Regions from separate parts of the Homo sapiens genome. Here region 1 is linked to region 2. The links come from fine-mapping of genetic effects on gene expression. A gene starts in region 2. The other region holds a variant in brackets. All regions are shown on one strand. Distances are between the middles of the regions.

What was found.
Region 1: its variant is fine-mapped to the expression of MXD3 in atrial appendage (GTEx, PIP 0.99).

Annotation. Positions count from the first base shown.
Region 1 is chr5:177,363,935-177,369,296 of GRCh38, forward strand. RGS14 (regulator of G protein signaling 14) reads left to right here. Exons shown (of 15, transcript NM_006480.5): 2 at 2,029-2,050; 3 at 2,243-2,421; 4 at 2,774-2,866; 5 at 2,957-3,100; 6 at 3,480-3,623; 7 at 3,780-3,891; 8 at 4,223-4,332; 9 at 4,783-4,986. Among named protein-coding and RNA genes, the nearest start is that of RGS14, 8.7 kb to the left of the region's middle. RefSeq lists enhancers at 567-696, 807-866, 997-1,046, 3,020-3,659, 3,660-4,298. The variant TCTGGCCCTGTCTGTCTGG/T (reference allele first, on the strand shown) is at 2,649.
Region 2 is chr5:177,309,610-177,314,948 of GRCh38, forward strand. MXD3 (MAX dimerization protein 3) reads right to left here and starts at 2,289. Exons shown (of 6, transcript NM_031300.4): 1 at 2,152-2,289; 2 at 1,770-1,875; 3 at 1,059-1,088; 4 at 817-931. The coding sequence starts at 2,221. RefSeq lists enhancers at 1-23, 94-143, 390-1,256, 1,514-1,713, 3,364-3,423 and silencers at 2,264-2,443, 2,574-3,143.

The DNA of each region.
Region 1 (5,362 bases), 54 kb after region 2:
GGAAGGAGCTGGAGCATTACAGTCTCACGGAGCAAGTGGAATTTAAAATCTCTTGCTTTTTAAATGTGGAAAATACCTTTAAATAAAAATAATAATCATCATAATAAAACCTGAGAGGGCCAAGGTAATAGTAATTTCCCACATATCTGCAGACCGGATCTGGCCCACAGATGGCCGCCCTGTGACCTGAATACTCTCAGGGTGGGAGTAGGAAACAGAGAGGAAGGTTCCATTCAGGAGGGTGGGGGTTGGGGGGCTTTCCGGGGTGGAGATGTTTGCAGGCCTGTTTCCAGTTGGGATGGGAATAAGGGGCTGGTGGTAGGAACTTCTGTGACAGGGCATGGTGAAAGTGTAGGAGGTAAGCGGGAAGTAGGAACTGGGGATGACTCAAGCCCTGATGTTGGAAGCCCGGGTGATGGGAAGAAAGATGGGGGCAGGGAAGCTGGTTTGGTACTGTGTTTTGGTGGAGGCAGAGGGAGCTTCCATTTGGGACTTCCATTTGGGAGCTTGAGGGCTTGTGGGACATTTGAGGGGGGACTCGCCCCCCTCCGCTGGGCTGCCTGGCCCTGCCCTCCTCGCGCACACCCTGAGCCTCTGTCCTGCCCTCTAACCCCAAGTCAGGGGTGATAGGCGCTGGAGCCGTTACCAGGAAGTTGGTTATGTGTGTCTGGAGCTGTGGATCTGTGGATGGGACAAAGTGCCCAGGACAGAGCCAGAGAGGGGTTGAGGCCACATTGCATGAGTGGGAGATAGTGGGGAAGCTGGAGGAGCTGCTAGGAAGGTAAAAAGAGAAACAAGAGAAACCACCGCAAGAGTCATTTTGAGAGGAGAGTTTTTCTGTTTCACTAATGATTGGGATTCCCAGAGAAACCAGAGTTGTGCACTGGGGGCAAGGATGGAGTTAGTTACTGCAGCAGTACTACTCACAGAGTAGTCCCTGAACCAGCAGCATCAGCATCGCCTGGGAGCTTGGTAGAAATGGACAGCCTCAGGCCCCATCTTGGACCTACTGAACCTGAATCTCCAGAGGTGGGGTCCTCCCACTCTGCACTGAAGTTTGAGAACCACTGCTCTGTACTATAGACCAGCATCTTGTGCCCTCCCACGGTGGTAATGGGACCCTGGGCCCAATAGGCAACACGTGCGATAGTAAGATCACTGGCTGCAGAGACACCTCTCCTTCCTCAAAGACAGCACATGTTTATACAGCCCATATCACATGCTGGCCCATGTTCTAGATGCTGTGGATATATTTTTATTTGATTTTCTTTTATTGAGACGGAGCTTTGCTCTTGTCACCCGGGCTGGAGGGCAATGCCACAATCTCAGCTCACTGCAACCTCTGCCTCCTGGGTTCAAGCGATTCTCCTGCCTCAGCCTCCCGAGTAGCTGGGATTACAGGCATCCACAACCACATCCAGCTAATTTTTTTTTTTTTTTGTATTTTTAGTAGAGACTGGGTTTCACCATGTTGGCCAGGCTGGTCTCGAACTCCTGACCTCAGGTGATCCACCCATCTCGGCCTCCCAAAGTGCTGGGATTACAGGCGTGAGCCACCGTGTCCAGCCAATGCTGTGAATATATTAAACTGACTTGATCTTTACATCAAGATGGAAGCAAATGGTTTGCCTCCATTTGTAAATAGGCATTATCTCCTATTTACAGATTACAGATGGAGGCAAACAAGTTAACTAACTTGCCCAAAGTTACACAGCTAGTAAGTGGCAGAGACTAAAGTCTGTTCCTACCCACCATGCTATGCACACCTGGCTCACCCAGCAGGGGCTGGGGGAGGAGGGAACCAGGGGCTGCTGGAAGGTACCTGCCATAAGTCCCAGTACTTAGTGGTTGGCACAGGATGGAAGGGGAGCCAGGGGCAGACTGAGGAAAACCCTGACCAAGTAGAACCTGGCCGGGGATGCCCAGGTGGAGGAGAACGCAGTTCCAGCTCCTGGGAGTCGGGCCCAGAACTGTCCCCTGGGAATCCTCACTGGGCTCTTCTGACTTTCTCTGTTGGGTCTCTTATAGGTTCTGGCTGTGTCAGATGGAGGTAAGTGACAGAATGTGTGGAGAACTGGCTGAGTGGGAGGGAGGAGGGAGGTGGAGATGGGTGGGGACACCCCTGCCACCTGCTATCTTTCCAGGGAACATGGCTGCAGAGTGGATGCATGGGGGAGGGTGGGTTGTGCCAGGGGCTGGGGAAGGCAGCAAGGCTCACCCCAACTTGTCCATCCCCCTGCAGAGCTGAGCAGCACGACGGGGCCCCAGGGCCAGGGCGAGGGCCGCGGCAGCTCTCTCAGCATCCACAGCCTCCCCAGTGGTCCCAGCAGCCCCTTCCCAACCGAGGAGCAGCCTGTGGCCAGCTGGGCCCTGTCCTTCGAGCGGCTGTTGCAGGACCCGCTGGGCCTGGCTTACTTCACTGTAAGCCTGGGGTAGGGAAAGGGAAGGGGGGACACGGGAGAGGGCAGGGCGTGGATGGAGCTTCAGGCTGGCCAGAGTGGGGTCCTCTGTCAGCTTCCTCATCTAGCCTTCCTGCAGCACCCTCTTCCTCTTCTCCCAGCTGGGAACTTTTCTTCCTTCTCCCTGTCCTTGTCTCTGCCTCTCATTTTCTCTCCCTGTCTTCAGATCGGTCTGGCTCCGTCTGTCTG[TCTGGCCCTGTCTGTCTGG/T]CTTGGTCTCTTGGCCCTGTCTCTGTCCCAATCTTTTTGATCACATCCCCCAGTTTGGTCTCTGTGTCTCTGAGTCTCTGCCTGCCTCCCCCTCCTTCCCCTCCCAGGAGTTCCTGAAGAAGGAGTTCAGCGCGGAAAACGTGACTTTCTGGAAGGCCTGCGAGCGCTTCCAGCAGATCCCGGCCAGCGATACCCAGCAGGTGGGGGAAGGGGGAGCTGGGGCCGAGGGCTGGGGAGAGGGGAACTGGGCCACGCTCCCTGACCAACTCCTCCTGTCCCTCCTCCTTCAGCTAGCTCAGGAGGCCCGCAACATCTACCAGGAGTTCCTGTCCAGCCAGGCGCTGAGCCCAGTGAACATCGACCGTCAGGCCTGGCTTGGCGAGGAGGTGCTGGCCGAGCCCCGGCCGGACATGTTTCGGGCACAGCAGCTTCAGGTGGGCGATCCTGGGGGGATTGGCCTTGAAAGGGAGACAAAAGGAGCAGGGGCGGGGTCGGACCCTGGCGGGGAGTCTGAACTACAAAGCGGAGGGGGCAAATTTGGAGGCGGAGACAGAGCCAAATGCCGGGGCAGGCAGGGCGGAGCTCAGAGGGCGGTATCAGAGGCACGGGGAAGGACAGTTAGAGGCGGAGCCTAGCTGAGCTCGGGGCGGGCTTGGACCCCGGGGGTGGGTATAGGAACTGAGGTCGGGGCGGGGCTTGGGAAATCCAGCCCTAGGTTTGGGGCGGGGCCAGCCCCAAGGACCCGGCCTGGGTGCAGGCAGCCCAGCGCCCCCACCCCAGCCCCGGCTCACCTGTTCCGGGGTCGCCCCGCAGATCTTCAACTTGATGAAGTTCGACAGCTATGCGCGCTTCGTCAAGTCCCCGCTGTACCGCGAGTGCCTGCTAGCCGAAGCCGAGGGACGCCCTCTGCGGGAACCTGGCTCCTCGCGCCTCGGCAGCCCTGACGCCACGAGGAAGGTGCGTGGGACTGGGCGAGGGACTGGGCGAGGCAGGGGGTCCTGCGGACCGCGTGCAAGAGGGGACGCCTCCGGGTGCAGATCTGCGAGTCTGTGCCCACGGTCTGCATGCGGGCTGGGGCCCAGCCCGGTGCCAGCGCCTCCCCTGTACCCACAGAAGCCGAAGCTGAAGCCCGGGAAGTCGCTGCCGCTGGGTGTGGAGGAGTTGGGGCAGCTGCCACCCGTTGAGGGTCCTGGGGGCCGCCCTCTCCGCAAGTCCTTCCGCCGGGGTGAGGGCAGGAGCGAGCAACAGAGATGTGGGGAAGGCGGGAGTTTGGTTAAATTTGGGGAGTGCCCCCTTCCTCCTACGTGGCCCACAGTCTGTAAGTCTGTGAAAATTGAAACCCAGGTCCCAGTGACCACCACACTCCCCTGGGTGGTTCGGGTCTTGGGCTAGACCTCAGACGTTTGGAAATCTCCAACGGTGGTGTCGCTCCCAGGGATTTACACCTGGGCCCCTGCAGGATGGCTCCAAACAAGGCCCACCAGTGGGGAACAGGCTTCCGCAGAGGATGGGTGAGGGCGGGGGGCTGTTCGCGTTCATCGCTCCCTCTTCACTAGAGCTGGGCGGGACTGCAAACGCCGCCTTGCGCCGAGAGTCTCAGGGCTCCCTCAACTCCTCCGCCAGCCTGGACCTTGGCTTCCTAGCCTTCGTCAGCAGCAAATCTGAGGTGAGCCGACTGTTGGGGAAGACAAGATGCTCTATGGGCTAGAGTCACTACTCAGGCCCATTTACGTGGTGGCCCTCATTCCAAGTTGCTGTCCTTACTGCGTCTCCCAGCTTGCTCTGCGTAGCCAACCCTTCAGCCTCCTTACTTGTCTCACTACATTGGTCCCCATATATGTCATGGGTACACATCCTCAGTTGGCAAATGTGTGCACATGTGCAGCACCCAGGTGTGTATACACAGCACGTGTGTGGGAATCAGCGGGTGGACCCGTCTCTAGGTGCCCATATGCCTGGGTGTGCATACATGTGTTCCTGCAGGAGGACGTATCTTTGCCTGCCTTGGGAGTGCGTGTGCATGCTTGAGCCCCAGCAAGCTTACCTATCTCTGTGTACCTGTGTGCATGCCCTTGCATGTGTACACATAATCTCCCCCACTCCTGCCATGAATCAGAGCCACCGGAAGAGCCTTGGGAGCACGGAGGGTGAAAGTGAAAGCCGGCCAGGGAAGTACTGCTGTGTGTACCTGCCCGATGGCACAGCCTCCTTGGCCCTGGCCAGACCTGGCCTCACCATCCGAGACATGCTGGCAGGGATCTGTGAGAAACGAGGCCTCTCTCTACCTGACATCAAGGTCTACCTGGTGGGCAATGAACAGGTGGGAACGTGACCTGGCTCCAACTCTAACCTCCTTCCTGATCCTGACCCCAACTCCATTTCTGTCTCTGCTCAGTCATGGCTCCAACCCCAATTCAAGTTCTAAACCCAACTCCAAAGCACCCTCAGCACCAACTTTCACTCACTCAGACATCCACCCACCCCCCACCTCATGTCCTTCCAGGTTTCCACCTTCATCCATCATCCTATTGTGGTGACCTTAGGGAGGTAAAACTGGAGAGAACCACTGTTGGAGCTGGGGTTTGCCCCTCATCATTCCCAGAGTCCAGACTCCCATCCCCACAGACCCATCCTGGAAATGGCCATCCGTGGGGTGCCCTCACCTCCTTAGCCTCTAGGGGCACCCAAGTGCACCT
Region 2 (5,339 bases):
ACAGCCCCCAGTGCCTAGAATAGGGCCTAGCAGAACCAGTGCTCAGTAAACACTTGTCAGAGGAGATAACGCAAGCCAGGGAACTGGGCATGGGTCCTGAATCTGCCGCCCATCAGCTGTGCAACTTGTTGGCCCTCAGCCTAGCTGTGCCTTCATGTATTCCTCTAGAGGGCAGGAAAAGTCCTGTGGTTTCCAAGGCCACTTCTGACATGGCCAGGGCCACCTGGGCCTTTATTCAGCACATCCACTCCTGTCCACCAGGGGGCACTGAGCTCAGCCCCAGCAGCAGCAGGAGCCCTGGGAGGACCAGTGACTGGCGTCTTCTCAGTCCTTTCCCCTCCTGTCCCTGGAGCTGCCTCCCAGGTGGCACCAGGATAGACTGCCCATAACAGGAGGCCTTGAAGGTGAGAGGGGGAGAGCAAGGACCAACCCTCTACAGTCCCAAGGACCCCCACATACATCCCATCACAGAATTCAACAGCCATCCCCTCCCCTCAAACAGGAGGGAAGGTTAGTCCAGACAGGCTAAGTAACCTGCCCAAGGTCTCACAGCTGTGATCTAAGTGATAACAGCTGTAACAGCAACAGTGAACATTTATAGAGTGAACTCATTTAAGCCTCAACAACCCTCTGAGTTATTGTCTGCTTTTCTTCCCATTTAATGGATCTGGAAAGTAAAAGCTCAGAGAGCTGTCCTAAGTCACACAGTTCTTGAGCTCTGACCTCAGGTCTCGTTCCCCAGTCCCACCAGCCCCTCCATAGCACAGCCCTCCATACACCAGGGCAAGCCAGTCCGGGCGCAGTGGGGGGCCTCACCTGGATGTGCATCCTGGCACGGCGCAGCAGGCTCAGCGTGGTGTACCGGGCACAGTCGGCCCCCAGGGGCATCTGCTGCTTCAGCCGCTCCAGGCACCGCTTCAACTGGGCCCTCCTGTGGGGAAGAGGTCTGGAGGGCAGTGCCAGCCCCACCTTGCCGGCCACAGGAATGGCAGGGGAGGGAAGGCCAGAGGGCAGTGGCCCCTGGGGGCTGGCGCTGTCAGGGCAGGACTGGGACTCACCTGCGCTTCTCCAGTTCATTGTGCACTGACCTGCCAATGCCAGAGAGGATGAGGTGAAGGGGAATCAGCTACTGCCCATGCCCCAATCCCAGGGCCCCCAGTGGCTCAAGAGCCACTACAGATGTCTGCCCCAAACAAGTCCCCTGTGGAGAGCTCATGCTGGCCTCAGACACCAGAGTCCCCTGGCAGGGCGAGGGGAGTCAAAGACACACGGAGCCAAATGCTTAACAGAAGCCTGCCCAGGTGGGTATGAGGGCCCTAACAAGGGCGCCTGCCAGCTGGCCAGAAAGGACCTCCCAGAGGTGACAGCTAACTGCGGAAACAGATGTTTCCCAAGCCGGTACTGGAGGGAGGGGCATTCAAATAGGAGGGAACAGCATATGCAAAGGGCTGGGGAGAGGAGAGAAGAGGAGGAAGCCAGCGGGGGAGGTGAGTGGCCTGATGTGTGGGGTGCGGGAGTGCGAGTGGAAGCGGGACCCCAACTGCTGTTGGCAGTTCCCGGCACATCTAGAGGTGCTCAAGAAATAGTCCTTGAATGAATAGAAAGGTGTGAGTGTGTTTGGAGAGTGGGGAGATGGCAGGAGGGGTCTGAACGCTTCCTGGAGCGGGACACCTGGCCCAAAAGATGCAAGCAACAAGTGGGCAGAGGAGGGCCCGACCAGGGGCGGCGCCCACCCCCACCCCCACTCCCGCCGCCCCCGGCCTCCTCACCGCCCGCTGTCCTGCGCGCCAGGAGCCTGGGGGGGTCGCTTCTTCCTCCTGTGGATGGGGCCTGGACTGCGATGCGGGCACAGGGACGCATAACCATGCTCGGCCTCTGCCAGAGAGAGTCCCCGCCCGCGTCAGGCTGGGGCTGGACCTGGTCCCAGCGGCAGCCCCAGGCACAGCACGGTCAAGGAAAGGCTTTTGGCGCCAGGACCATTTCCCCCACCCGTCCCTGCTCTACCGCCCCGGGACTCCTCTCGAGTTGAGGGCGAGGCGCCCCGGGATTACTGTCCTAGGGCGGTGCATCCTTCAAGCTGGGAGCCAGGTCCAGTCCAGGCCCGTGTCAGCGAGGTCGCCGCCCGGAATTCAGCCAAGGGTCCTTCCTCACCTCTCTCACGGCGCTCCAGGAACTCGGCCGCCTGCAGCAGGACCTGGATGTTGCTGGCCAAGGGTTCCATGTCGGCGACAGCTGGCGGCGGGCCGGCCTAGGGTGCCGGCCGGAGCAAGCGGCTGCAGCACTTTTGTTACAAAGTAACTGACACGGTGCAACAAACACAGGGGCCCGCCCCGCCCCCGGGACGCCCCGCCCGCGGGAACGCCCAGCCCTTGGCTCCGCCCCTCTGGAACCCGCCACGGAGCCGCAGCCCACCCTCCGGCAGCCGCCCCGCCCCGAGTGGTCTCAGACTTTCCAGGGGCAGGTAAGGGCGCTGGCTCCAGGCCTGGCCCTGGAGCGAACCCTCAGGCTAACCGGTGCTGCTTCTTGCCCGCCTCACTCATCCACCCACGCCGGCTCATTGGCGTCTTTGATCTCAGCTTCCAGCCCCGTGCTAGTGACTAGCCCCCAACATAGCACGGCGCTCTGGGGGCCTGGTGGTCCCCTGAAAGCGCCGGGCCCAGCCGCTGCACGTGGGTGCCGCGGGGGCGGGGCCTCCGGCCGCCGCTCGCCCATTCGCACATGGCTTCTCAAGGATCGCTGTTGTCATCCTCGGGGCGGGGTCGGGGAGCCTCTGATGCCCTATTGGCTGGCGCTCTGCCCCGCCCTCTCCCGCCGCTGATCCACACGTTCGGGCGGGAAAAGAAGCAGGTTTCAAATTTGAAAACCCAAGCGATGGGGCGGGGTTGAGAGGGGAGCTGGGCCTCAATGCGCAGGCGCCGGCGGAGGGGCGGCGGACCCGGCTCCTGCCCTCCGGGGTCTGTCCCCAAGCCTGCCTGCCATCTGCCCCCGAAGGCCCCCGTGGGCCCCAGCTTCCTACTGTGTCGAATGGGAATAATATCTCGGCCCCCCTCCTCTTCTGTGAGGAAGCTGTTGTTGCTACGAAAACGTCAGTGGGGTAACAGCTTCCTCAGGCAGGCCATACCCTGGAGGCACGCGAAATGGCCTTTTCCGGGGCCTTGGGCTCTGGTATCCACGCAGTTGGGGTCCTCTCCTGTCACTGATGTCTCAGCTGTGTATGACTCAGGAGGTGACCTCCGTCTCTAAGCCTCAGGAGCCCTGCGACAGCGTTGAAGGATCAGAGCCAATGCCTCTGCGGTGCCCATGGCATGAAGGAGCCGCCCATCTCAAAGGCCAGTGCAACCAGACCGCGGCGTTTGCCTCCCAGGCAGCCCCTGCTTGCCTTACTCAGAGTCCATAAACCCTTCTTGCACCTGACTCTCCTAGCCGGCCGAAGGAGTGGCTGTGATGACTTCTAGCCTCAGCACCAGCAGGTGGGGCCACATCTGGGGACAGGAAGATGAACGCAGCTGTAGCAGGGTGGAGCATTGCTGCCAGCCACGGGCTGAGTCTGTGACTCCAGTAATCCCAAAATAGAGAGGGGAGGGAAGGTGGGAGGGATAGATGCTCTGTAAAGAGACAGTCCTGGTAAACACAAGCACATGTCAGTCAGGCCTCAGTTCCTTGGGAAAAATCTTTTTTTTTTTTTTGAGTCTTGCTCTGTTGCCCAGGCTGAAGCGCAATGGCTCAGTCTCGACTCACTGCAACCTCCGCCTCCCGGGTTCAAGCAATTCTCCTGCCTCAGCCTCCCAAGTAGCTGAGACTACAAGCGCCCACCACCACACCCAGCTAATTTTTGTATTTTTAGTAGAGACGGGGTTTCACCGTGTTGGCCAGGCTGGTCTCGAACTCCTGACCTCAGGTGATCCACCCACCTCAGCCTCCCAAAGTGCTGGGATTACAGGTGTGAGCCACCGTTCCTGGCCGGGAAACATCTTGAAGTTTCGGCCAGGCGCCGAAAAAAAATGAAGTTTCTCTAAGAGTTGCTCACAGCGGAATAACTGCCCTGTCTAGGCAGACGATCCATCTACCCAGCCGCCTGTCCTTAACTCACAAAGTATTTGCTGAGCTCTCACTGGACACCAGGCGCTGTGCTGGGGGCTGGAGGACATACGATAGGCAAAATCATACAGGGTCCCTGCCCTTGCAGAGCTCATAGGCTTGAGAGGGAAAGACACCAATACAGTCGCAGGAAGGCGGAGGTCCAGCTGGACAGGTCCTCACAGGGAGAGACCATGCCCCACAACACATTCTAAGGAACATTTGACCTAATTGGTGAGGCCAGAGAAGGCTTTACTGGGGAAATGGATGAAGAGGTGTTATCTAAGTATAGGAGAGATGAAAGAATTCTAGACAAAGGAACAGCACATGCAAAGGCCCTGGGGCTGAAAGGAGCATGGCAGGGGCGGTGTGGCTTACAGAGAGCAAATAGCCTGGTGCAGGCTGACACTGGAGAGGCTGCAGGGCCCAGAACATGCTGATGGGTTCCCCCAAACTCCCCCCTGCAATCAGCCATCTCTGAAGGAAGGAGCCGCAAGGGTTGTGAATGAATTTCCAATTTTATTTCACTAAAGTCAGCACCATGCAGTGCAGACACGAACCTACTCAGATGTCTGGGCCCTAGGTGGCCTGGCCTCCAGTCTGGGTGGGATAGGGGTGGGGAGGTTCTGAAGGAGGAGAATTTTCAGCAAAGGGAAAGAAGGAAGCATATGTGAGCTGAAGACATGGCCAGGAGGTGGTGGGAGTCGGGGTGGGGCTGCAGAGGGGCTGGAGGGCTCATGTCAAGGAGTTTGGACTTCATCCTAGGAGCTGCAGAGCGGTTTTGAGCCAGGGACAGCATGTGGGCTGGGGTCAAGGCCACCGGCCAGGCCAGACAGGAACAATACCTCCCCAGGAACAGGATGGGACGGGGCATGGGGGGATCCAGCCTGGACCAGCAGGGATCCTGCCCCAAGCCCTTGGATGTCCCCTGGGCCCCTGTGAGAAAATGCTAGAGCTAGTGGCCTCTAGGCACAGGACTGGACAGAGGAGCTGCAGTGCCCCCCCAGCAGTGACCAGCCCAGATCCTCTGCCCTGGAGTCCGCAGGGTCCTGCGCTTCGCCCTGTGACCTCCTGCCTCCACCAGCCCACTGTAACTGGGGTTCTGCTGCCTGTACTTGCAGTGCAGACTCTACCCGGGTCTATGGTCCTCTGGGCTCCAAGGACAGAGTCTGCATCTGTGCCCTGAGTGGAAGGGGAGAAGGGAGACCCCCCCGCCCCAGGCCTTTGTCCCAGTTAGGACCCCTTGAAGAGGGGAGCCAATC